5 separate regions of the Homo sapiens genome follow, and regions 1, 3, 4 and 5 are each linked to region 2. The links come from fine-mapping of genetic effects on gene expression. A gene starts in region 2. Each other region holds a variant in brackets. All regions are shown on one strand. Distances are between the middles of the regions.

The links. PIP is the estimated chance that this variant, and not a neighbour inherited with it, causes the effect.
Region 1: its variant is fine-mapped to the expression of CD36 in whole blood (TOPMed, PIP above 0.99).
Region 3: its variant is fine-mapped to the expression of CD36 in whole blood (TOPMed, PIP above 0.99).
Region 4: its variant is fine-mapped to the expression of CD36 in whole blood (TOPMed, PIP above 0.99). The same link has a PIP of 0.9 or more in blood mononuclear cells, macrophages, stomach, sun-exposed skin and tibial artery.
Region 5: its variant is fine-mapped to the expression of CD36 in whole blood (TOPMed, PIP above 0.99).

Annotation. Positions count from the first base shown.
Region 1 is chr7:80,661,212-80,666,322 of GRCh38, reverse strand. CD36 (CD36 molecule (CD36 blood group)) reads right to left here. Exons shown (of 15, transcript NM_001001548.3): 6 at 3,154-3,333; 7 at 1,826-1,917. Among named protein-coding and RNA genes, the nearest start is that of CD36, 25 kb to the right of the region's middle. The variant A/G (reference allele first, on the strand shown) is at 1,922.
Region 2 is chr7:80,636,222-80,641,332 of GRCh38, reverse strand. It overlaps CD36 (CD36 molecule (CD36 blood group)), which reads right to left and starts at 2,691. Exons shown (of 15, transcript NM_001001548.3): 1 at 2,587-2,691.
Region 3 is chr7:80,482,170-80,487,280 of GRCh38, reverse strand. All of the region lies in intron 3 of GNAT3 (G protein subunit alpha transducin 3), which reads left to right. It overlaps LOC107986812 (a long non-coding RNA gene), which reads right to left and starts at 814. Exons shown (of 3, transcript XR_001745252.2): 1 at 694-814. The variant T/A (reference allele first, on the strand shown) is at 1,993.
Region 4 is chr7:80,668,802-80,673,912 of GRCh38, reverse strand. It overlaps CD36 (CD36 molecule (CD36 blood group)), which reads right to left. Exons shown (of 15, transcript NM_001001548.3): 9 at 3,891-3,960; 10 at 2,749-2,936; 11 at 1,873-1,991; 12 at 1,070-1,143; 13 at 504-558. Among named protein-coding and RNA genes, the nearest start is that of CD36, 33 kb to the right of the region's middle. The variant A/C (reference allele first, on the strand shown) is at 2,780.
Region 5 is chr7:80,703,591-80,708,701 of GRCh38, reverse strand. No RefSeq gene overlaps it. Among named protein-coding and RNA genes, the nearest start is that of CD36, 68 kb to the right of the region's middle. The variant G/A (reference allele first, on the strand shown) is at 2,408.

The DNA.
Region 1 (5,111 bases), 25 kb before region 2:
TAAGTTTAAGAAATGTTCAATTCTGTTTATGTTTTGTTTGAACCTTTTATCTTATTGCAATGTACCTGATGCCATTAGGTAGCCAGATCATAAAATAAAAACTGCCAGGTGTTAATTAGAAACATCTTGGAATAAGAAAAAAATTAAAAACATTTATCAGAAACTTAGATCTCTACTTAGGGGAAATTTTTTTTTTTCCAATGGGATACATGAATTACTCAGTAGTATAAGTGTTCAGAATGAATAGAAGGAAAGTGTTAAGTGGGTAACTGATATAAGCTAAGTACAAGGCAGGCAGAAGAGAGAAGCAGGGAAGAGGAAAGAAGCAGATGTTTGGATCAGCAAACATTCAAAACATGTAGATGATTAATTTATATTCTTGCCCCTTCCTCCCTTTAATTCTCCCATGGACTGGCGTTAAAGTAGGAAAGAGTTTACTAACTTATACTTTGCTGTCTAAATAAGCTATATATATCTGGAAGTGATAAAAACAATAGTAATAGTTTCCCTGCATCCTCACTTTTTGGTGATGGAAAAACTTTTTTTCCACTCCTGACAGTGACATGTCAAGACAAGCCATTGCTTAAACAAAATAAGTGGTTAATCATGTTCAGTCTTGCCATGAGTTAAATCAACCTTACAATCTTAAAATGATGTGAAATTCTTACTCTAACTAGGAGTGCTTTGCAACTCCCCTCCACATCTCTCTGTAATATTAGAGTGAAATGCTCGTTATTTCTCAATATAAAAAATTGCTGTGATTTCCTTTTAAGTGAATACTTAGAAGTGTTTTTTTCCCTCTACTGACTTTTTCTATAAAAATATGTAACTGTGGACTCTTTAGAAGAAAAAGTACTCCACTAGTAATATTTAGCTGTTAAAAGCAATCATTAGATAGACTCAGTTTGAGGTAGGGGTTACTTTATATTAATAAAAACATTTCATCTCTTTTGGTTTTGATCACTTTATTCTTTTTCAGAAAAAAACTAGTCAAACACACAATTGTTAATTTTATGGAGAAGAAAGCTTGTTCCTCTGATATTTATTAGGGTTCTTCCTAGTTTACATATATGATAAATTATAAATTCTTTAGGTGAATAGGCTGGAGCTAGAAAAAAAAAAAGGAAATAATGGCTTAGGAAGCTGATTTGTTATTTTACCACTTTAAAGTTGGCAAAGTCTTCATTTTCACATTTTGTATTTACATTGTAGAACTGCACTTGAAATATTCATTCTATTTTTGCATTGATAAAGTTAAAAAAGCTGAGTTATCAATATGGAAAATTATTAAAGACTATTTGCAGGGGGAAGGTCATGAAAGCAGTTGCCTGGATTCATTAAGCTTCCATCTTTATAGACACATTTAGGTCATGCCACTGGAATATGGAATTCGATATGCTCGATTTAAAAAGTAAAAAAAAAGTTTCCATCTACTACACAATCAGTTGATGTGTTGTTTTTTTTTTTTTTACCTTTTCATTTATGGTTATCTAATTGTAAGAATAATTATACTGTAATGCTGGATAAGTAGCAGAGATGAAAAAATAGTCCCTTTGGGGATTTATGTAACACAACCATAACCTGTGCAGAAAGGTGAACCAAACCTTAAAGTGGAGCTGATAGTCAGCAGCTATGCACTGGTGTGAACTCACCAGTTACCACAACTAAAGAGTTAATACCTAGCAGAACAGGAGTTTCCAGAGCTGAATTATAACCAGGTCTGTTCTATAGGTTGATGCCTATGTCTTATGAGATGTTAAATGAATACTATTCCTGCTTAAGAGTACCCTAGTAACATACATGCACATTTTACCAGAATACTTACCTTTTACCTTTATATGTGTCGATTATGGCAACTTTACTTATGTTATCTTTTCCATTGAAAACTTTATAAACTCCATCTGCAGTATTGTTGTACTGA[A/G]ATATATGTATGGGAAAATGTTACTTCTACAAGTCATTTTTTCAAAGTTGTACAATACATAACTCACTTTCACATTTCTCAATCACTGGTTACTCAAATGACTTGAAATACATCTGCAATACATTTTTTTAAATTATTGGCCTTAAAAATTGTGAAAGGTGCCTAGAAATAAGTGCTAGATGCTGTGACAAAGAAGATACATATCAGAAGCTGACATGATGTGAACTCTAGCACTCTGTCATAATTAAGCCAATGAGGGCATTTTGATCACTATTCTTACTATGTTGAGGTGAGGGACATTGAACAAACCTATAAGAACAATGATTTCTAGGGGTATTCTAAATGTTACAGTCATTAATAAGTGGTTACTAAAATGATAATAAGTGGTTACTAAAATGATAAAAATTAGACATCCAAAAGTTAAAGCATTAGCCAAAGAAAGAGCTATGAGTATTGAGTTAAAATCAGAATGAATTTGATTCATTATGGCTTTCTACATTCATTTATAATTGATATATAACCTTGTAATCCTAACAGTATCTAAAAGTAAAACAATGAACTAGAGAACATAATATTCACATATAGTGCCAAATGAAGTCATAGTCCAACTTCCAATTCAGTAGTTAGCTTATCCTATTTGTAATTCAAAACATTAAGCGGTAATCAAGTACACCATCAAGTTCACATTTTCCTTAATCTTCAAGCTGCCATTTCATGACATTATGGACTACTAAAAATTCTTATTTACAAATCCCATTAAAATGAAGTCTATTACCTTATCAGTATTGAGATGTGAACATTAGGCTAACTTTTAAATATAAATTAAAATTGTAAGAGGTCTAGAAAAGGAGGAATGAGGAGTATATTTAAAACAAATAAAAATATGGTATTAAACTTGATTATGTGAATAGGGAAATAAAAGCCAAAAACAGTGCTCAAAGATTTACAGACTAGCTTACCGGCTAATTTAAAAAAAATTGTGTATTTATAAATGAGTAGAAACCTTATTAAATCTATTCTTCAGGTTTAAATTTAATTGTTAAATTCAGATGAATTTCCCAACTAGGAAAGCTGAAGCTATAATGAGAAGTGGACTTTTTAAAAAGTTAGGATATATGTCTCCAGATCAGCAATAAGACTAATGAGCTAAATTATAAAATTATGCCTTGCCAATGCCATTGAATTAATTAAATTAAAATGTAATAATATTGCCATTCATATTTGGTACTTACAGGATAAAACAGACCAACTGTGGTAGTAACAGGGTACGGAACCAAACTCAAAAATGGATCCCTATAGCCCCATAACAGTTCTCTCAAAGTTCTGACTTGGAACATAGAAGATTTTGACTTGTTAATAAGTGAATTGAGGATCATTTGAACAAATTGATTTTGATAGATATGGGATGCAGCCTACAAAAACAAAGTCACTGTTTAAGACAAGAATACAATATTAGATTTTAACAAATAAATGGATTAAATGCTAATATTGAGCTTAATACAAAACTTTTTAAAGCTTATCTTTAAAATTACTGCCAGATCCTGCCAAAACTCAAAATGCAATTCGTCTAATTCCTAGATGATTACATTTCTTTGCCTCAGTGCCAGCCACAAGAAGACGACATTCCAAGTTAAGCTCTATTTATTTAACGATACACTTAAAGTGGTCTTCTCAAATATCTAATGCATTAAGGCATACGGGGCTTAAAACCTAGATGATGGTTTGATAGGTGCAGCAAAGCACCATGGCACATGTATACCTATGTAACAATCCTGCACATTCAGCACATGTATCCCAGAACTTAAAAAAAAAAAAAGCCATAAGTCTGGTCCCAAAGGCGCTGGAGCCACACGTGACAGAAATGGCGCAGACAATTGTTGCAGGCGTGTTCATCACAACGGCAGGTTCCACGTCTAACGGCACGAGGCTCTCTGCCAGTGACCTGACCAATGGTGCGGATGAAATGCTGGCCACAAGCTCCAACAGGTCTCAGTACAGCATCTCCAGGGTGAAGACCCCGGTGTCCCAGGTTGGGGAGGATGAGGAGGACTACGATTTCGACGAGGACAACTGACTTCCTCTCCACTTCAATTTCAGCTTCAGGAAAATGTTTAGGAAAAGAAACTTCTTTTTTTAATGTGGGTTTTCTGTTTCCTTTTGGCCTACTCCCAAGAATATATTGGTAAGCTATTGAATTTAGATATGCACCTCCGATAAGCAAGGATTGTTTCCCATAGAATTAGGATGTGCTGTGGATGTGTGGTTTGATGCCAGTGTGCTAATGCAGAGCCTTCATATACTTTTTAGGATTTTGTGTTTCCGTTTTCTATTTTTCTTAAAATGCAGAGTTCATATTTGCCCCTTAAGAGTTTTTGCTGAGCTTGCTGAAGAAATTGTACTTCATCCACATAAATGCCCGCCTGTTGTGAATGGTGAGCACCAAATGCCCTTTATTTGCCATGAATTTGGACGGCACCCCCTGTTGGCGGATAGCTAGACTCTGCAGAGTTTTGTTTATTCAGTGGTGTGGTCTCTAGAGCCCCAAGCAAATAGCCGAATTCGACTTTCCAAACAATAGACACCATCAACCTTATCGACTTTATTTTCCCTTAAATTATATTGACAGTTGTGATTCCATCAAGTTTATATACTCTTTTTTTCTCCCCATTTTGCAGCAACAAATTGCAAAGTGCTTTTGTTTGTTTGTTTGTTTGTTTTTGTTTGGTTAAAGGTTATTGCCCACTGGTACAGCTACTGGTACACTGTCTGGAAAGCTCGGAATGGTTTATTGCTTATAGTAAAATTTGCCTGATTTCTTACAGGCTGCGTTTGGAAACCTTTTATTATATAGTTGCTTACATACTTAAAAGTCTTTCATTTAAAGACATACTGAAACAAATGTTGTACTTGTTTCTTAAGCATCTTCCTGTAATCTGTTATAAAATTGAAATTAAATATAGAGAATGTTTCGACAAAAAATAATGAAAAAAATAAAGTGGTCTTCTAATGCAGTCGATTCTTATGATTTTGTCACTTTCCAAATGACCATGCCTCCATTCAAAATAATGATATAGGAATACGTTTTGATAAAAATGGAAAAACAAGTAAAACCTAATAATTCTAATGATAGGATTAATTACATGAGTTCTAGAGTATTTTAAAATAGATAACTTTGTTGTTTGTCTACTCA
Region 2 (5,111 bases):
GACACAGTTCCCTATACATGAGTAAAAATGTAGATTCAAATTCAAGGTAGTAGAAATGGGTGTAAAACAATCATTTAACTATGATTATGTTTCATCAACATAAGGTCATTAGGTCATTCTTTATAAAATCATGTTTAGAGATAGAATTCTCCTTTCAAGGTAAATTTTATGCACAATACCAATATAAAAGATAGTTCAAAGAAGAGTTATTTGGTAAAAGAAAGGAGCAGAAACTGTGCCTCTTCCCTTTCCCAGTCACGCTTCACTTGGGCTCTGAGTCATCTCCAAAGAACCCATGGGCTCCACAAGTAATTTTCAAATAACTGGACTATGAGATCTCCAGAATCTTATCTTACTGAAATTATCTCATGTCCATTTCTATCCTATCAGAATATATGATGGTAAAAATGTAAAATAGGAAAAAACTTGATAGACATCTGTAATATAAAATAATTACATACTTCTCAAATATTGCAATTTGTAACTTGTTTTGATGGTAGTCTTTAAAAACTAATGCAATAAATACATTGGACTTTATATATTATACTTGGGATCCTTCTAGAAACAAGTCCCGTCTTTTAAAGACTTATGAACCAGGGATTACTGTAGGTTTGAAATTATTCCCTTAAGTTCATACTGACTTAAAGAGTATTATCTAGACCCATTCTTAATTTTTGAACCTTAGACAAGAATGCTAATGTCTTTTTTCCACACCCCAAATTCTACTATAAACAGACACTATAAAGTTTGTAATGCCAAAAATGCTGGACCTTGAAGCCAAGAAATGTAGATTCAGTTCTGGGTGTTAGTATTGAAGTTTGTCTGTGATACAGTTTTCTCTAAAATGAGTTTACTTACATCAAATAAGGTTGCAAGTATTAAATGAAGTAAAATAATATATATTTATATTGTAGAAAATGTTATTGTTATTTTGAAATATTACTATGAAGTATCATTTCAAACCATAACAGTAAAGTGTTATTTCATATTGGCCAAGTGTTTTAAAAATCTAATAAATGTGTATATTTTACAAAAGTAGAAATGAGTATTTGCAAAATAGTTAGATTATAATGAAATGTGATCATATATGTATGGAATTAAAATATGCAAATGGAAAGACAGCTACTAGTTTAGAACAATGCTACTTGCAAGTTTCAGACACATCTTGGGCCAGTGAACAAAAACATCTTCTGATTAGATGCAAGGATACTTACAGAATTAAGTATCTGATAGTTACAGAATTATCTTAAACTTTCCTTTTCAGGAAACACACAGGAAATACACACACATGCAGGGTTCAAATGTGTTAAAGTAAACAAGGTTAAAAAAATTCCTTAAAAAAATAGGGTGGCAACTATAACTTCCAAGGTAAATTCCAAATTCAGTACACTCTGTGCAAGTACCTCCAGTTGTAATTAATATTCTTCCCAGGCTAACCCATTATCTGATGGTTCTCTGTTTGGTTTATTGTTCTGGTTCACTAATGAGTCTGGGAAATTAAATGATTTCTACTTTAGTTCTTATTTTCTTGTAAATTCCAAAGGACCACTGGACTTTCTATATAACAAACATTTTTAAATATTTCATTTTGGCTTCCTTGTGAACCAATATTTAAAGCAATATTTTTTAGCTTCAACACACATTACTGACTTCAAACCACACAGAAAAAGACTAAAAAGTACATGCAAATCTTTACAAAACAGGTTTCAATATGCTACTTGATGATTTCAGAAACTGGGATGTACTCTAGAGAATTTATGCCATTTACAGTTATTTATAATTTTAGTTAATGTATAATTAATTTGAGGCTTTTACTTAATTCCTCCAAATTGATTTCTCCTTTACTTCAACTTGGCATCATCATCTAATAATTCAGTACTATTTGTAATAAGCTTCCTGAATCGAAAAAAAATTAACTTTATTTTTATTCTACTAATTTACACTAATTAAATTTCAGATTATTTAAAAGTAATATACTTTGCTATTCCCAGTAACAATGACAATATCTTTGTTCATTACAGAAAAGAACTTAAAAAGCACATATCCAAAATACACATTGCATTTGATCATGTAGAGCAAGTCAGGTATACCAAAAGTTGTGCAATTCAGATTGAAAATTAAACAAGCTAATGACTCTGTAAAGTAATAGTTAATAATTGCATATTAGACAACATGTTGACATAAGAGCTGTAAGTCATTTATAACATCTAACCTCATTATATTGGTCTGCAGTATAATGATCTTCATCATTTAAACATCATGTATAAATAGCCTAAGTATAAAATGAAAGTTTTATAATAATCCAAATTGGATTATAAATCACTTTAAATATTAACTTATACATACGACATGAAATGCCATTGGGTATGGTTTAAGCATAAAATATAGGAAGGTTGATAACTTGAAAATAATGCAAACCTGATTTTTAGATAAAGCCTAGTGACTAAGAAAACAGTTACTACCTTTTTTCCTGTCCTCCTATATAACTTCTTAGGAGTATTTATACAGTAGTGTCACCTCCCGTCATCTGGGTGATGGGAAAAATCCCTTAATCTTTTTTATTTAAAGAAAAATCATACAACTTACCTTTAAAATGGCTAAGAAGGATTTTTCAATCAAATGCTCCAACATTTGGACAATTCTTAATAGGATCAAATGGTATTCTGCAGGAAAGTCCTACACTGCAGTCCTCAGTACATAAATGCGTGAGAGTTTAAATATGCAACCACACCCCCTCCCCCCCCCAAAAAAAGAGAAGAGAAAGCACTCTACAGTGTCAGATCCCAGTGTGTGGTTTGTTGCCAGAGGAATTGAAAGAAAAAAAAAATCCCCCACACAGCACATTACTGATATGGCTAATAAGGGTCTATTTTTATGTTCTGGTGAAGACCCATTACCTATATCTGAGATATTCAGCATTTTTTTTTTTTTTGGCTATTTCCCATCCAAGTAAGTCAGAGGCCAGAAAAACAAAAGGAACTGACTTGCTGAGTTTCCCCTAACATATTCTCAGATGCTGAACTGAGACCGCTGGTGGAAATAGTAAATTTGGAAGAATAATCATATTCTCACTTCCCTGTCTTGACTGAGCTTGCGAAACTTATTTTATTAAGTTTAAATTTAATGTACTTTTTTATACAGCGTAATTCTGAAATACTGTGAGACTAATAATTCTGAAAACAATTGGAGACTGTCAATCAGCAAGGATGACAAACTGACTTAAAAAAAGGAAACAGCCTATTGTTCTAGCTGGAAGTTCTTAACTGTTTATCATTTTCTGTTAGTTTTGCAAAAATTTCATGATCACAGCACAGTGCTCCTACAAAAAATAAACTCTTTAAATTTCTTCAACCAAAATATGTCTAAGTAGAATTACTATTGAGGATAATCTTTAGTACTTAAGTCACTTTCAAAAAAAAAAAAAGCATTATGTTGATATTGAATCAAAATAGAAGGCCTTGCACTTTGGGGAAAGAACCTTCACTATCAAGACCCTGTTCTTATAAAGAAATTCTCAGAATCATACAGGAAAACCTTCACAGGGTTAACCTGGCATGTATTTGATAGGAGAGCTGGATAAATGCATTCAAACAACCTTAGAAGTAAAGTAACCTAAGAATACCAGACAGAAATATATTTAGTTCATTAGGTCATATTTAAACCAGTCCTTAAGTTAGAATGCTCGTGCTGTCCTTTTTGGGCATGTGAGGCACACAACGAATCCTTTCATTTGCAAGCAGTGCCATACAACTGAAAAAAAAAACCCCAAACACTCTTTTCTCCTCAAGAATTTTTTTTCCCCAGGGAAGTTTTTACTGACATATTTATTTAAAAAATAAGTCATAAAAATATTGTAAGTCTATTACTTTTTTTTCAAATCTCAGACCACTTAATTAGGATAAAGTAGAAATGACCATGTGCAATCTCTTTATAATTTATGCTTTCAGTTAGAAAAGAATAACTCACAGTGATTTCATGAAACTTAAGAAGGTAATTCCCTTAAATAACTGCGACCTTTTATCTTGGTGGCACGATATAAAATGGTAGTATAAAGACATATTATTTTGGTTAAGAATATCTATTTTGTAGATAGCTGTTTTGTATTTAAGCTAATTTATTTCTCAACCTTAATTCTCACACACTCACACTCTAATATGACAATTCAGAAAAAGATTACCAACGAAAGGGTTCAGATAAGACCTGTTTAAAAGAGCATATTTTAAAGATATTAAAAGACTAAAGTATAATGAAAATATGATCGCAATTAGAGAAAGATTATTTCAGAAAAAATACATGCAAAATAGATGCCTAAGTTGACATTAAACTTACTTGGGTATTATTTAATCAGTAGCCTAATGCCATTCAAATCTGCTGTCACTGGAGAGGAAAATGTCACAGAGTCCCATGAGCAGTCCAAAGAATCAAATTTACATTCCCAGAGACAGCTGTTAAGTGTTCAATCCCATAGACAACAGTTCCTGAGTAGCTTAGCATACAAGATCTGAAAGCACACAGCTGAGTCAAATCTGCAACTGTGGATTTTTAGAAAAATATAGACCTTAAACAATAACATAGCAAAATGCTGTACCCATTTTAAAGTAAAGAGTGTTGGGGTTTTCATTTTTTTAAAGACTATGCACCCACCATATTTTGAAGGGATGTGTTTTATGTGAGCATATACCTTGCTTTATGTAAATCCACTATAACACTGGATTAATTTATTAGAATGACAGGATATAATTTTCAATCTACTTCAGTCAGTTTAGACAATTCTTTGGAAATTCTTTTTTTTTTTTTTTTGCAAGAGATCACATAGGGTTAGAAATTGGAAGGATGTAAGTTTAAATCCTCAGGCTACCGGGCCCTAGTTATATTGACTTGTAATTGGAAGTTAACTGCTTGTTCTTCTTTTTCCAGATTTATCAAGGTATGAATCATTTTGACATGTGTATACACTGTAAAATGATTGCCATAATCAAGTTAATTAACATTCATTGCTCTCATTTTCATAATCAAAGAATAGAGAAAACTAAATAAAAGAGTAATAATAAGAGCTAAGAGATGAGTAGTGTACAATACTTGACAGGAGCCTGAAAATTTCTAGGCACTCA
Region 3 (5,111 bases), 150 kb after region 2:
CTTTTATTCTTTATCTCTCTCTGACTTAGTGATCATGTTCTTATTTAAGTGTAGTTCAGTTATGGATCTGACCTTGGCTTTTCCTAAGAACGTAGGATTTTAAATTGGCTCTTAAGAAACAACATAGTATACCCACCTTAATTTAAAAAAAACAAGGCTCAAAGATTAGTTGGTTTACATTAAGTAGCTCAAGTTTATGGAAAAATCCACTTCTCCTGGATTCCATTATAGTGCTTTTTGCTATTCAAGGATTTAATGATTAGAAATATTTATTTTTTCCTCTTAGGCAATAATAGTTACAAAAATAGACGTACCCTCTGAATTCCTTTGAGAATGATTTAATGATGTTTAAATTTGTAGATGCAATACGGTATTCCATGCATTTGTGTCAGAGAAGTTGGAAATCACAATCTTGCCTATTGCTACTTATTTAAATAGACTGTGTCTTTCATAGAACCCAGAGTTTGTGAAACAGTGACGCTCTGATCACTAAATACTTGATATTTGACCAGATATGGTGTCTCATGCCTATAATCTCAACATCTTGGGAGGCTGAGGCAAGAGGATCGCTTGAGCCCGGGAGTTCCAGACCAGTCTGAACAATATAACCAGACACTGTATCTATAAAAAAAAAAAAAAAAAAAAAAAGGAAAAGAAAAAGAAAAAAAAATAGCTAGGCATGGTGGTGTGTACCTGTAGTCCCAGCTACTTGGGAGGCTGAGGTGGGAGATTCACTTGAGCTTGGGAGGTTGAGGTTGCAGCAGCTGTGATGGCGCCACTGCACTCCAGCCTGGGCAACAGAGCAAGACCCTGTCTTGAAAAAAAAAAAAGTGAGATGAGAGATTTATTAGTAAAAGTCTTAATGAGTTGACATATAGGGGAAGTGAAAATAATAAACTCTACACATTGCTGCCATCATGCTAATTAAAAAATAAAAGTACAGTTCATTCAAACTGTACATTGAATGGCATAAACAGATCAACTTAAGCAGCACTTAGCCATTGTCATAACTTCTCAAGAGTACCTATATTCTCAACTATCAGAACATCACAGTTGTCAGGCACGACATAGTTCATATTTTGATTTCCACTTATGTGAACTCTATCAGTTTCAGCTGCATTCTAGTACTTGGTTTTGAGATTAATATACTCTTGACCTGTTTAAAATTGTTTATTTAACAGATTGATTGCTAAACACTACCTACATGTGACTTTCAGAGTTCTGGTTAGCTCTCAATTATTTATTTATACAAGTGCATATACTTTTATATAGCCATTTGCACATCATCACACAGATTGCCAAAGAGAGAAGTTCTGATAGAAAATTTATGTGAGCTTTATTAGTCACTGGGTCTATAAGTTTGGACAAGTTAACCTCTCTAAATTTCAGTGTCTGCTTCCACAGAATGTTATGGCTTTCCTCCTTGAGTTACAATGACTATTAAAGAAGGAAGCAAAAACATAAGAAATCCACTATATACAGAGTATTATAGAATGTACATTTTCAGTAAATATTAGGTATTATTTTTCAATATTTATTTTGAATATAGGATCATTAAAATTTAGGTAGTGAAATCTATACATCCAACATCATTTGAAAAAATTATTTTTTATTAAACTATTATTTATGTGGTAGACATTTAGTTGGACACCGGGGATGTAGTGAGGGCTCAGCAGTAACTGAGATGGAAATAATATTTGTCATCAGGAGAGGAGAGCTTGATGTTTAACAAGTAACTACAAATATGCTATTTCAAAAAGGCTGTGCAGCTATATGTGGAGCTCAATCCTTGCTTAAAGAAGGAATTACTAAGAAGGGGAACACTAACATTAAATGAGGATGGAAAAGAACTAATTAGTTTGGTTTTGGAATGAGTTTGTAAGTTCTATTTGATATCTACATATGTAAGCAATTACAAATGTGCATTTGAAGCCCAAAATGGACACTTTGTCTAGAGATCTAAATCTAGGTGTTATTGGCATGCCATTATAC[T/A]ATGGCATATAATTCATACTAAGAAAGTAGGATGGAATAGGTGAAGGAAGCACTTAGATTAAGAAGGGAAGGGTATTAGGGATAACAGAGTCTAGGGAAGAGTGTTAAAAAAAAAAAACACACAATATTTTCTGCTCATTTGTTAGGAAAAGAACCTTCAAGGGAGAGGACAGAAGAGTAAAAGGAAATCAGAAGTATGCGAAATCACAGAATTCAAGAGAAGTGTTCCAAAGGGAATTATCCACATTGAAAGGTCTTGAGAGGTCAAGAAAGGAAACTATTAAATAGAATCTATTGGATTTAGAAATATGGAGCCATTGGGAATATAGTGAGAGAGGTTCCAGAAGAATGGTGGACTCCTACTCCTGTGGAATATGTGGAGAAATGAGAATAGGCTATTGGAACAGTTAAGGACAATATTTCAGGACCTATAGCCAAGGAGTAGGAGAGAGATGGGATATGTAGTTAGAGGGGAAGCAGCTAAATCGGGATTGTTCTTATTGGTTGTGGTTTAGTATTTGATAGGCTTAGAATTTCCTAAGCATAGAACTTGAAAAGAGGGTTAACAAACCCTCTTTTTTTGTTACCTATGTAACAAACCTTCATATCCTGAAGAAATAGGAAAGGAGAAATAATGAAGATATTTAGTAAATATCTACTTATCCTTTTGAATATTATTATATCCTATTTTGGAGCATATAGAATCCACTCAACTGACATAAAAGAATGCTGAAAATTGTAACACTTTTACTACATAATTTGAGCACTGTTGTAATCATCTTGGACATAGAACCCTACAAAGTAAACTCTACAATATGAACCAAAAAGCACTGATTCCTCAAGATGTTCTACAATTGAAGTTCTGTGATTAGATTTGTTTGGTATATATGCGTCCAATAACTTGGAAATTTTCAACCAATATTACTACTCAAAGATTCTGAAAACCGAGTAGCCACAAAACATGGTATTTTTAACTCAGCATTTCTCACAATTACTAGGTAAACTATATAGTCTTCCTTTCTTTTGATATTTTTTTCATGATATTTGGAAATATGACTCTAGGGTTCAGAATAAGTTCCACAAAGTTCTAAGACCACCTGGGATCCCTAATATTAACGATGAAGTTCTGAGTAATCTGTAGGGAAAACACATATTTTATTTTCTATACAATGTAGTCCCAAAGTTACACAATCTTAAGAGAATGAAGATGAGTTGATAGGTGCAGGAAACCACCATAGCACATGTATACCTATGTAACAAACCTTCATGTTCTGCACATGTATCCCAGAACTTAAAGTAAAATAAAAATGATGAGTAAATAAAATAAATATTCTTTAAAGAGAGAGAGAGAGAGAATGAGCCATTCCAGGCCCACTGTAATTCCCAAGCTTTTCCAAATACCTCATAGGGAAATAAAACTTCTTTGGGATGCCACTCAAATCCACAGGGTGTTATTTGAAAAATGTGGCAGAAAGGATGATTAGAGAAGGCTTCATTGAGGAGGTGGTATTGGGAAGAGACTTGAGTGAAAAAGGAAGTGAACCACCGAAGGACATGGAGGCAACAACCACTGAAATGCGCTGAAATGAGGGCTTGGTGAGTTCAAGGAGCAACAAATTGTTCAGTGCATCTTGAGTCTTGGTGGCAGGGAGAGAAAGGGAGAAAGGAGGGAAAGAGGGGATCAAAACATGTAGAACCTTGTGAGTCACAGTAAGGGATAAGGGATTTGGGTTTTATGTTGAGTTTTGAGTTTGGTGAGAAATTACTAGAGTTTTTAAAATATAACAATAAAATAGGAGTTAAGTGTTCGATCAGTTTGGCCGTTATGAGGAAGCTAAGTTTTCATAATACCTATACATTTTGGTGTTATATATTTTAAAAATTCACATTTGATGGGTAGGCTCAATCCTTTAAAAGCTTTAAGGAATTTTAAATTTAAAGAATTGTAATTCTTTAAATTATACCAGCTTTTCAATAAGCACAGAAGAACATCAAGAATGGAAATACACTATGTTCAATAAAGTGTTATTTATGGTTAAAAAAATAACAACTGTATATTGCCAGAAATTCTTAATGCAGTCAGAACAGTTGCGTCACCTTGAAGCTTTTAAAAACTACCTTTGCAGGGCCTGACATGCAAGGATGCTGATTCATTTTGTTTGGGTTGCAGTTCTGCTATCAGTACTTTTAAGGGTACACCATATGCTTGTAATGTGCAGCCTGGATTGAAAATCATTACCGTAGGCTCCAACTATGCACGCACAAATTTAAAAAGTAAAAGGTCTGGAGACACAAAAACCAACCTGATAGGATAACTTGCCTTTGTAGGAGGTAGTAGGATTGAAGTGGTCAAGGGAGACTTTGTAACATTGAAGTGTTTAAACTAGAACTATATTCATGATACCTCTACAAATAAAGTATATTGAAATTAAAAATAGAATATTTTTTTAAAAAGGAAGGACAGGTATGGTGGTTCACGCCTGTAATCCTAGCACTTTGGGAGCCCGAGGTGGGCAGATCATGAGGTCAAGAGATCGAGACCATCCTGGCCAACATGGTGAAACCTCGACCCTACTAAAAAAAAAAAAAAAAAAAAAAATTACAAAAATTAGCTGGGTGTGGTGGTGTGCACCTGTAGTCTCAGCTACTTGGGAGGCTGAGGCAGGAGAATCGCTTGAAAGTGGGAGGTGGAGGTTGAAGTGAGCCTAGGTTGTGCCACTGCACTCCAGCCTGCATGACAGAGCAAGACTCCGTCTCAAAAAACAAACAAACAAACAAACAAAAAAACAAAAAAGAAAAAGAAAGAAAAAAGAAAAAGAAAATAAGAAAGAAAAACAGAAAGAAATGAAACAGTATATTTGTTTGGTTTGTAAAGCTATGCTGACAAGATATATAATTTTTTCTCCTTAGGGATAAAACTGTGTAGTGGTTGTTTTATGGCATCATTCCTCCTAAACAGCACTTTAATAGTGGAAGGAGCCAATAGCATGATGCTAGTGAAAGTGACCAGAGCATATTTCACTGAACTTGCAGTTCTCTTTCATATCCATTTAACAGAGAAATGGGGTTTTAAAAATCTATCCTGTGTTGATGCAGGAAAATCAGGTTGAGACTTGATA
Region 4 (5,111 bases), 33 kb before region 2:
TCACCCTTTTTTCTAACACCTCTATTGGTGTTAGTCATCAGTATCTATAAGGCAAGTTAATGGAATTCCTTTTGCAAGTCAAGAAAGGCAATTAAGTGCCAGATAGAGTACGGTACTCTTCAATGTACTAGGATTCATTTGCTCTTCAGAACTATCAAAGGGTCAACAGTTTCATTTGCTCCAAAGACTTATTCAATGTTTTTCCTATTTTTATAGCTATCAATGCATGGATTTATAGTAAAAATACCTTGTCAGGCAATAGAAGACAAATGTTACAACAAGAAAATGTGTTTAATAGATGCATTTTTGAAGAAAATCTTAAATGATAGGAAATGTTTTTGTTCAATTGGATCATCTCAAATAGGTTAAATAAATGTATACTCATCCATATGGGTAATGGAAATACATATAGCTTTAAATACTATACATTCTTTTGAAACATCAAGAGCTTGTTTATATACAAAGAAGGTTGTTTTTAATGACTAACAGCTGCAAATACAAACCTCATTAAGCCAAAGAATAGGCACAATATAGTTCCTCTTCAGATTCTTTAATACTCTGTAATATACGTTGAAAATAATTATGAACATATAAACTAATATTTATATATAACAAACTTTAAAATAAATGTTCATAAATTAGTTGCTGTTGCTAATTTGATTTTGTTCCTGTAATGACTCATTTAAATTTTAATATAGTTGTTTTTGACTTCCTTTGCTCTTATATGTCTTCTAATCACATTGATTTTTTTTCACAAGTGTGGATTTTTCCTTTCAATAAATTCTCGGGGAACTGAAATATGAATTCCAAAAATTAATTATTGTCATAGAAATATTTGGGCAGCTAACAAAATAAGAGATGCTATCAAATGCTCAAATAAAACCATAAAACCATTCCAAAATCTGTGAAATTAGTCATAAGCATTTAATAATGATTGGTGACATTAAGCTAAAGATAAGTTGATATCAGATGTTATTTCCACTTACTTACATAGATTTACTCATGTTCTTACAAGAAGATACTACGATACTACAGATCATATCAAAATAACCATTTTCAAGAGACTCACTGAATTTTTTCTGATGGCTTGACCAATAGGTTGACCTGCAGCCGTTTTGCAAATTGTAAAGTGAATCCAGTTATCTAAAAAGAGAACAACTAAATAATTACCAACTTTTAAAAACATTATTTTATACTATTCAAAACTTATTTTTCTTACAGCAGAAGAGAAGGTAGTAACTTAAGGTTAAACAGGACTAATTGAAACTTTTAAAACTGCATATATAGTTATAGTTATATACACATGCATCCATATAGATACACACAATTTATTTGCCCAATCGAATGTCAAGGTTTTAGTTAGTTAGATTTGTGAGTTACTTGAAATGGTTTTTAAAAAATCAAAAATCAGCAACAAAATATAAGATCTCAGATAATTCCTGGTCAAATATATATTCAGTTAGAATCCATGTGTCATTGTTTAAACTAAAACATAACTACTAAAATCCTAGAATTTCATTTACTTTTTGAAAAGGAAAATACAAAAATAAAGATGATTAAAACTGTTGCGCTACAACAATTTTATAGATTTTGACAATAAGTATAGTCAAACTCACATATACTCTTTGACTTTTGCATAATATACAATAACTCCTCATCTAAACATAAATATTTATATAAAATTATTTTAAGCCAATTAGAATCACTTCATAAACCATAGGAAGAAATCGACCTAAGTTTCAGTAACTTTCAAGAATGTGATTCAATAAATATGATTATTTATTGAATAAATAATCATCGACAAGATTATTTTTATTTCAATTGTATTTTTAAAAATATCAACCAAATCAGATCAATAAGGTGTTTTCTTACAGGTTCAATATCCAAGTATGTCCTATGTTCTTCTTCATTTGGGTTTAATCCATCAATAGGTTCTGAAACATCAGGACTTGCATACAGAAAATGAGGAAGTGAAATGTACACAGGTCTCCCTGAAGACAAGTTTTAAGAGTCAATTGGAATTAATAACTTCCTTCATTTCACATATAACTCAAAAAATATTTCCACAAAACTAAAGCTTCTTGCATTAAAAAATACATGGTTTTTAACATGGGTGGGGAAGAATTATGTCAGTTGATTTCTACTATAAACTCCTTCAGTATTAATTTTCAATATGTAAAGCTTTCAGGCAGTAATATGTCTATGGACTAAGAATTTATTTAACACTAGTTTTTTCTTTCTTCTTCCACACCCACGTTAGTATGATAAATATGTACAGGATAAGCTAGTCTCCAAATTTTATGTTTAACTCTAGCTTTAGATACATACTGAAAATACATTTACCTGTACCATTTTCTAGTGAAAAAAGTTAGGACAGATGAATAACAGGATGTTTAATGTGTTCTCGGAATTATTTTCATTTCACCCTAAATCTAAAAGCAGCCACAAGGAAATACTGGTGTGGTTTTAACTAAATTTTGTAATACTGAAACACAAGTGGGATCTTCCCAAAATACAAAATCAGCACTAAAATTTTCTGCCACCATTCTTTCTTCTGCCCTAATTACTTTCTTACTTTAATTTTAAATTTTGGTTGCTAAAGGATTATGGTAAAGTTCTCATTTTAAAGAATATCACAAATTATGATATATTTTAAATTTTGGTTGCTAAAGGATTATGGTAAAGTTCTCATCTTAAAGAATATCACAAATTATGGTATGGACTGTGCTACTGAGGTTATTTACTCACCTTCTTTGCATTTGCTGATGTCTAGCACACC[A/C]TATGATGTACAATTTTTTGAGATAATTTTTTCTGTGCAGAAACAATAGTTGTCTGGGTTTTCAACTGGAGAGGCAAAGGCCTTGGATGGAAGAACAAATCTATACACAGGGATTCCTTTCAGATTAACGTCGGATTCAAATACAGCATAGATTGACCTAAATACAGAGAAAAAAGAGCTGCATTCCAGGAACCTGAACTTACATTCTGGAGATTCATTTTTTCTTATTCTTGTTTTAACTTAGAAACATCATATACTCTTTTAAATTCTTGTTTCATTCTTAGAAAAAAAGTGATTGGGAAATTTTAACACATACTAAAACTCAATAGCCAAGCATGAACTATTCTTGTTTGTGAAGTACCATGTTTATTTATACTCAAGTTACTTCTCACAGGCAATTTATCCAATAGAGTAAATATTTATAGGACTTCCTTCAAATACTTTATTTGTGATCAGTTTAAATGAAATAGTTTCTTTCACGGCTTAATTAATCCTGGAAAGAAAGACCACTCACTGGAGTGTATGCATATACATGCTGGATATATACCTGGTACATTTCCATCGTTTACCAAGTGTCTATCATAGGGTTCAATACACATATTTTTCTTATCCCCAGATACACGTATATGAAGAAATACTGCTGTCTTAAATTGTACAGATAAGAAAAAAATTCAGAGATGTTAAATGCCTACCCACAAGCATACAGTCTTTAGGGACAGAGCTTGGGCTCAAGGGTAGTGGTAAAGGCTCCAGTGCTTGTGTGTTATCTACTGGGCCCCACAAATCTGAGCAGAGCACATTAACACAGTTCTGTTACATTTGCATCATCTTCTCTGTATGTCTTTAGAAAGATTGGGCACGCCCTTCTGGACTTGATCGTTAATAGACTACTAGTTTAGTTTTTAAAAGGCAAAATGGTTCTTGCTTAGATAGAAATGGCAAAAAAAAAAAAAATTTGTACTATTAAAAATTGGAAGATGCAGAAGAACATTTTGCAAAGAGTTAGTTAATAAACATGATGAATTTCCTATGCTGTGTTTAAGTTTCTTGGTCTGCATTTTGTCACCTGGGGTCTGACTCAGACATACTTATACTTCAGTATCTGTCTTACCTGCAAATATCAGAAGAAAAGAACTGCAATACCTGGCTTTTCTCAACAAAAGGTGGAAATGAGGCTGCATCTGTTTAAAAATCGAGTGGCAAATGATTAGATGTAATGTGTGTTCTAGAAAAAAACCTAGAAATCTCTCCTCCAGTGTAGTCCATAGAAATGTAATGCAAACTGCCTAAGTAATTTATCTAGCAGCCACATTTTTAAAAGGTAAAAAGAAATAACCGGCCAGGCATGCTGGCTCATGCCTGCAAGCCCAGCACTTTGGAAGGCCAAGGCGGGTGGATCACCTGAGGTCAGGGGTTTGAGACCAGCCTGGCCTACATGGTGAAACCCCATCTCTACTAAAAATACACAAAATTAGCTGGGTGTGGTGGTAGGCGCTTGTAATCCCAGCTACTTGGGAGGCAGCTATCCTGAGGCAGGATAGGCCTGCCTCAGCTATCCTGAGATAGGCGCTCGTAATCCCAGCTATCCTGAGGCAGGATAATTGCTTGCACCCAGGAGGCGGATACTGCAGTGAGCCAAGATCATGCCATTGCACTCCAGCCTGGGCGACAAGTGGAAAACTTTGTCTCAAACAAAACAAAACTATATTTAACTTATTAATATCCAAAATATTTTAACATGTAACCATTATAAAATATTTTAAATTCTTAAAGTCTCAAAATCTACTGTGCATTTTATATTTACAGCACATTTCAAATCATACTAGCCAGATTTTGAGTCCTTAACAGTTACATATGGCTGGCGGCTGCTATTGTCAACAACAAATCTACATACTATACATATTTAATGGTACAAAATAAAAGAAACTTAAACATGAAATGTTAAGGCTAACATTGTGTTTGTTTTTTGAAATGCCCTACCCCACCAGTAGAGTGGCACTTTTCTTCCAGTGAAGTTCATTTGGATCTCCTGCCATGTCCACATTTATTTGTAGTGATTTTTTTTCTCATTTGTCCTAATGGCTGATTACTACTTCTAAAAATATTTACTAAAGTTCTCTCACTAAACAGAACTTCAAATGCTTTGAAAGTGTATAAAAAAGTCATTTATTGAATTTACTTTTTGCTACAGCTATGATCCATGGCAAACATTGGATATATGAAGAAATAGTTAACTCCTCCATGTACTTCTCACATGAATATCACTAATACGAGCCGTCATTGAATGAGTTTTAAATGGTAAGTCTCATCTTTGATTATGCATTGTAGGTTC
Region 5 (5,111 bases), 67 kb before region 2:
AATTCCTCCTATCTGGTGCCACAAGAAAGAAAAGGAGGGACTCTTACCAACCCCTAGGTTGAATGATCTCTGTTTACATACTACCTCACCTCAGTCACAATGGAGGATCCAATTTTACGTTGATTATGAGTGGAGAGGAAAAACAAAGGTATTAGAAACTGCAGCTTCACTTGGGTAAGGGTGAGACGGACACAGTGTGGGAGCATACTCTTGTATGGTTGTGCTAAGTTGGGTTTTTAGGCTTTCTAACGCTCATCAAGATAGTCTGCTTGCAGATAAGATAAAGTGTGCTCACTTAGGTTGCCCTTAAAGAGGAACAGTTAGGAGACTTTCTCCATGTCACAATATCCTGGATACCTTCTTTTAGTGTTTTAATTTACATATATGATGAAAATTAGTTGATGACTTCCCTTTTGTGGCCATACTTCTTGAAAGAGTTTCATATATGTTTTAAATACTTAACACTTCACTCACTCTTTAGCAATCTGGTTTCCTTGACCATGACTCTACTGCAATTGCTTCCCTCCACAGTCTCTCACAAGGATGGGGGCTGCTCATCACCAATGCTTCTCCCTAAAGCACACTCTTCTCTTACCTTTTGTGACTGTTCTCCTCTTCCTCTTCCTGGCATTCTTTCTAAGTCCTTTGGAAATGCTGCTTCTTCCAGCCCCATCTTTAAAGTTAACGCTCCTTGGGACTTTGTTTAGACTGTTTTATTATTTATTTATTTATTTTTTTATGCTATATTCTTCCCCTGCATGATTTCATTCATGTCCATGGCTTCAGTTATGTCTTTATCCAGTTGTCTCTTTCTCTCTTGAGTTATACTTCTACATTCTATATGCACCTAGCAGTACTTCTAAGGCTGAACACATCACTTCACCCAGCCAAAACCATGTCTACTTCTGTGTTGCCTATGTCATGTTACCCAACTATCTAATCTATCTAAATATCTAATCTATCTAAATAAAAATCCTCTTATATCCTACAAATCGATCAACAAGTCCTGTCAATTCAACTCCCTCAATGTTTCTTGATTACTGTCCACTTTCACTGTGAACTTCTACTGCCTTTGTTCTGATCACTAATATATTTTATGGAACTTGTTATAACATCCTTCAGTAAATGTGTTACACAATAGCCAGAATGATCTTTTAAATATTATCTGGTTGTGTCATCCTCCTTCCTAAAACCCCCAATGTTTACACCTCATCCTCAACAAGTTCAGTGATTCTTAGCCTGATTTACAGAATCCTTCCTTGTTCACCCCACTGTTCATCTCAGCTTCATTCTTGCCAGTCCCTAACTTGTGCTGGAAACTACAGCCATATGAAACTTGTTTTTGCTCCTCCAGTGAATCTCACTCCTCTCTAAGTCTTTTCATACTATGTTAATTCTGCTTAGAATTCCCTCTGATTTGGTTTCATTAACAACTATTTTTTCTGATGTTTCCTGTTTTTTTTTTTTTTTCAATTTTCTCAGTCTGATTTTTCCACAGGCTTCTTGCCCTTCCCTGATTATAACAGTGTATCACAATTTCCTACTTGCTTGTTTGTATCCCCACTAAATTGAAAGCAACTTAAGTTGATCTTATTCACAGCTGGGTAAGGGAAGGAGCCATCCACTAATATAAAGAATAAAAAGAACAGGATAAAGAAAAGTAATTCATTTTACACATTTCTATACTCCATTATGCTTCTGGTGTATTTTTTTATGCTTCTACTTTTATATTAACTTTTTATGGAAAACTAAAAACAGCACAATTTTTATTGAGCAAAGTTATTAAGTTGGGCCTCAAAGCCTAAAAAAGAATAAGAAATAACTGTTTGGAATAGGAATTGTGACTTTCAGAAGGAACAGTAAGAAATGTTGAGATTTTACTTGATGGCCTGAATACAATTTGGTATCAATCATATTTCCCCATAGATCACATACAACTTTTGAAAGTGTTGGGGACTTAAGAACACCAAGGAGAAGCCGATACATGTCCTTTAAATATAAAAGCTGAGAAAGGAAAATCAGTATGCAGATGCGTTGTTAGAGCCCATAGGAGAACACTGCTGTTTCTCTTAATTAGAAAATTCAAGAGAGTTCTTATTTTGGAATATCTTTGTTTTTGTAATTGTGATATTTTAAAAATTTGTAAATATAACAATCTCTTTTGTGTTTCAGCTTGGTATCACTCATATTACCAAGTCTTAAATGCCCAAGTTTGAAAAAAATATTTTAATAAATTTTATTGTCTATATTTAAGGTATGTAACATGATATGGGATACATAGAGACAGTGAAATGGTTACTAGAGTGAAGCAAATTAACATATCCATCATCTCACATAGTTACCCTTTTTTCAGTGTGTGTGGCAAGTGCAGCTAACATCTACTCATTTAGCACAATTTCTGAATACA[G/A]TATATTATTATTACTATTATTATTATTATTATTTGAGATGGAGTCTCACTCTGTCACCCAGGCTGGAATGTAGTGGCCCAATGTCAGTTCACTGCAACCTCTGCCTCCCGGGTTCAAGCGATTCTCCTGCCTCAGCCTGCAGCACAGGCGTGCACCACTATGCCTAGCTAATTTTTGTGTTTTGAGTAAAGATGGGGTTTCACCATGTTGGCTAGGCTGGTAGTAAACTCCTGACCTCAGGTGATCTGCCTGCCTTGGCCTCTCAAAGTGCTGGGGTTACAGGCGTGAGCCAATATATTAACTCTAAACCTCATCTGCATTAGATTGCTAGACTTGTTTACCCTAATATCTGCTACTCTGTATCCTCTAACTTACATCTCCCCATTGCCCACCCCTGCCTTCCCCCACCCCTGGTAACTACATTGAGAAAATATTTCTGAACATAGCCTTGGAAACTATTTACATGTATTATTTCCTGCTGGGTTGTATTATATCTTAATATGCTCAAATAAGCCATTTATCTCCTCTATTAAGTTTCTTTTGTGTTTGTCTTATCTCACTAACTAGAAAATTACTTCCTTGAAGACTTCCTTATTTATACATCTCTCATTTCTCCTAAAACAAATAGGATAGTTCCAGACACATAGCAGATATTCAATAAATATGCTTTGATTAAGTTAATACATTTGGAATCTTTCTTCTGTTTAATGTTTGCAGTGTTAATCACCATCTGTGGTTCCATTAAATCATTATATAATATGAAAAGCAAGCACACTACTCTGATGATGCTCTCCTTTAGGTCTGTGCCTCACTAAAATTCAGAGACTTGTGGGTCAGTTTAGTTGTAACCCTGTACACACACACACACACACACACACACACACACACTTTCTCTCTCTCTCTCTCTCTCTCAGGTAGGGCAACACTGTAAACACACTCTCTTTCTCTTTTTCTCTCTCTCTCTCTCTCTCTCTCTTAGGTGGGGCAACCCTGTACACACACACGTGCACTCTCTCTCTCTCTCTCTCATACACACTTAATGGGCTGGCTGAAGGTGAAGGGTAAAACTGATGTTGATTTTCTTTAGGTATAAAATATTGCCCCTATTGCCCCTTCCACGTCTGATGCAATAGACCCACAAGTCTATTCTTCAGACATGATATGTGTAGGTTTTAAACGCTTATTTATCTTTTCAACATTTTTTATGACTTCTATATTGTCTGCCTCCAGCAATTCTTGTAGGAAATAGAGACAATTGTTCTCATTTGTGAAAACTCCATGTTAAAGCAAAATAAAATGTTTGGGGGAACACAAAGGATGTATAGTTACCTTGTACCTGGGTGAAAGAAGTGGGGAAGGGCAGAAAGTTCTTCTCTGCAGAAATAGCTGGCAGAAGTCTGAAAGATGAACAGCAGTTCTGGTTTTACTTTTTCTTTTTCTTTTTTCTTTTTTGAGACAGTGGAGTGCAGTGGTATGATCTTGACTCACTGCAACCTCTGCCTTCTGGGTTGAAGTAATCCTGCCACCTCAGCCTCCCAAGTCGCGGGGATTACAAGCGTGCGCCACCTCACCTTGCTAATTTTTGTATTTTTGTAGAGATGGGGTTTCACCATGTTGGCCAGGCTGGTCTTGAGCTCCTGGACTCAGGCAGTACTCTCCTTTTGGCCTCCCAAAGTGCTAGGATTACAGGTGTGAGCTGCCATGCCTGGCAAGAGTTCTGGTTTTCTACTGTATATCAAAGCATCCTCAATTTAGTGCATAAAACCACAATGATCCTTTATCATTATTATCTCTCATGGTTCTGGTGTGGACTGGACTCAGGTAGGTATTCCAGATGGGAGTTTCTGTTTATGGACTGAATGTTTGTGTCCATCCCTCACCCCCAAATTCATAATTGAAACTCTAACCCCCAAATGTAAGGTATTTGGAGATGGGGCCTCTTGGAGGTAATTAGGGTTAGTTGAAGTTATAAGGGTGAGACTCTGGTCCAATGGGATTAGTACTGACTATAAGAAGAGACACCAGGGCTAGCTCTCTCCCTCTGTCGTGTGAGGACACAGAGAGAAGACAGCTGTCTGCAAGACAGGAAGACAGCCCTCCGCAGAGCCCAATCACGGTGGAGCCCTGATGTTAGACTTTCAGCCTCCAGAACTCTGTGAAAATAAATATATTATTTAAGCCACCCAGTCTATAATATTTTGTTATGGAAGCTGAGCTGACTAGCACAGGAGTCTGTTGTTATAATGGGGTGGTGATTGCGGCTGAAGTCATCTCAAAAGCTTCCTCACTCACATGTTGAAGTGGGTTGAGAAGATTCATACAGCTGGAGACCAGATATGGGGTTCTGCAGGCATTTCTCTACCTCTATATGGCCTGTCTAGCATGGTGGTTTCAAGATAGCCAGGCTGATTACATAATGACCAGTGCTCCAAAGGGACAGTCTGAATAGAAAGACAAAGCCAGGCAGAAGCTGCGTCACCTTTTATGACCTGGCTAGGCAGTCATGCAACATCACTTCTGCTGCATACTAATAGTTAGAAGTATCTGCCTGCATTTATATGGGTGCTGGTCAGAGAGAGGAGGAAAAAGGAGGCTTATTGGGTAAGAAGCAGCATGGTGGGAGAGTGATCATAGAACATTTGAGTTATATCAAACTTATTCTTACAGTGTTATTCAAGCCACCAGATCCAATGAAATGCTTTT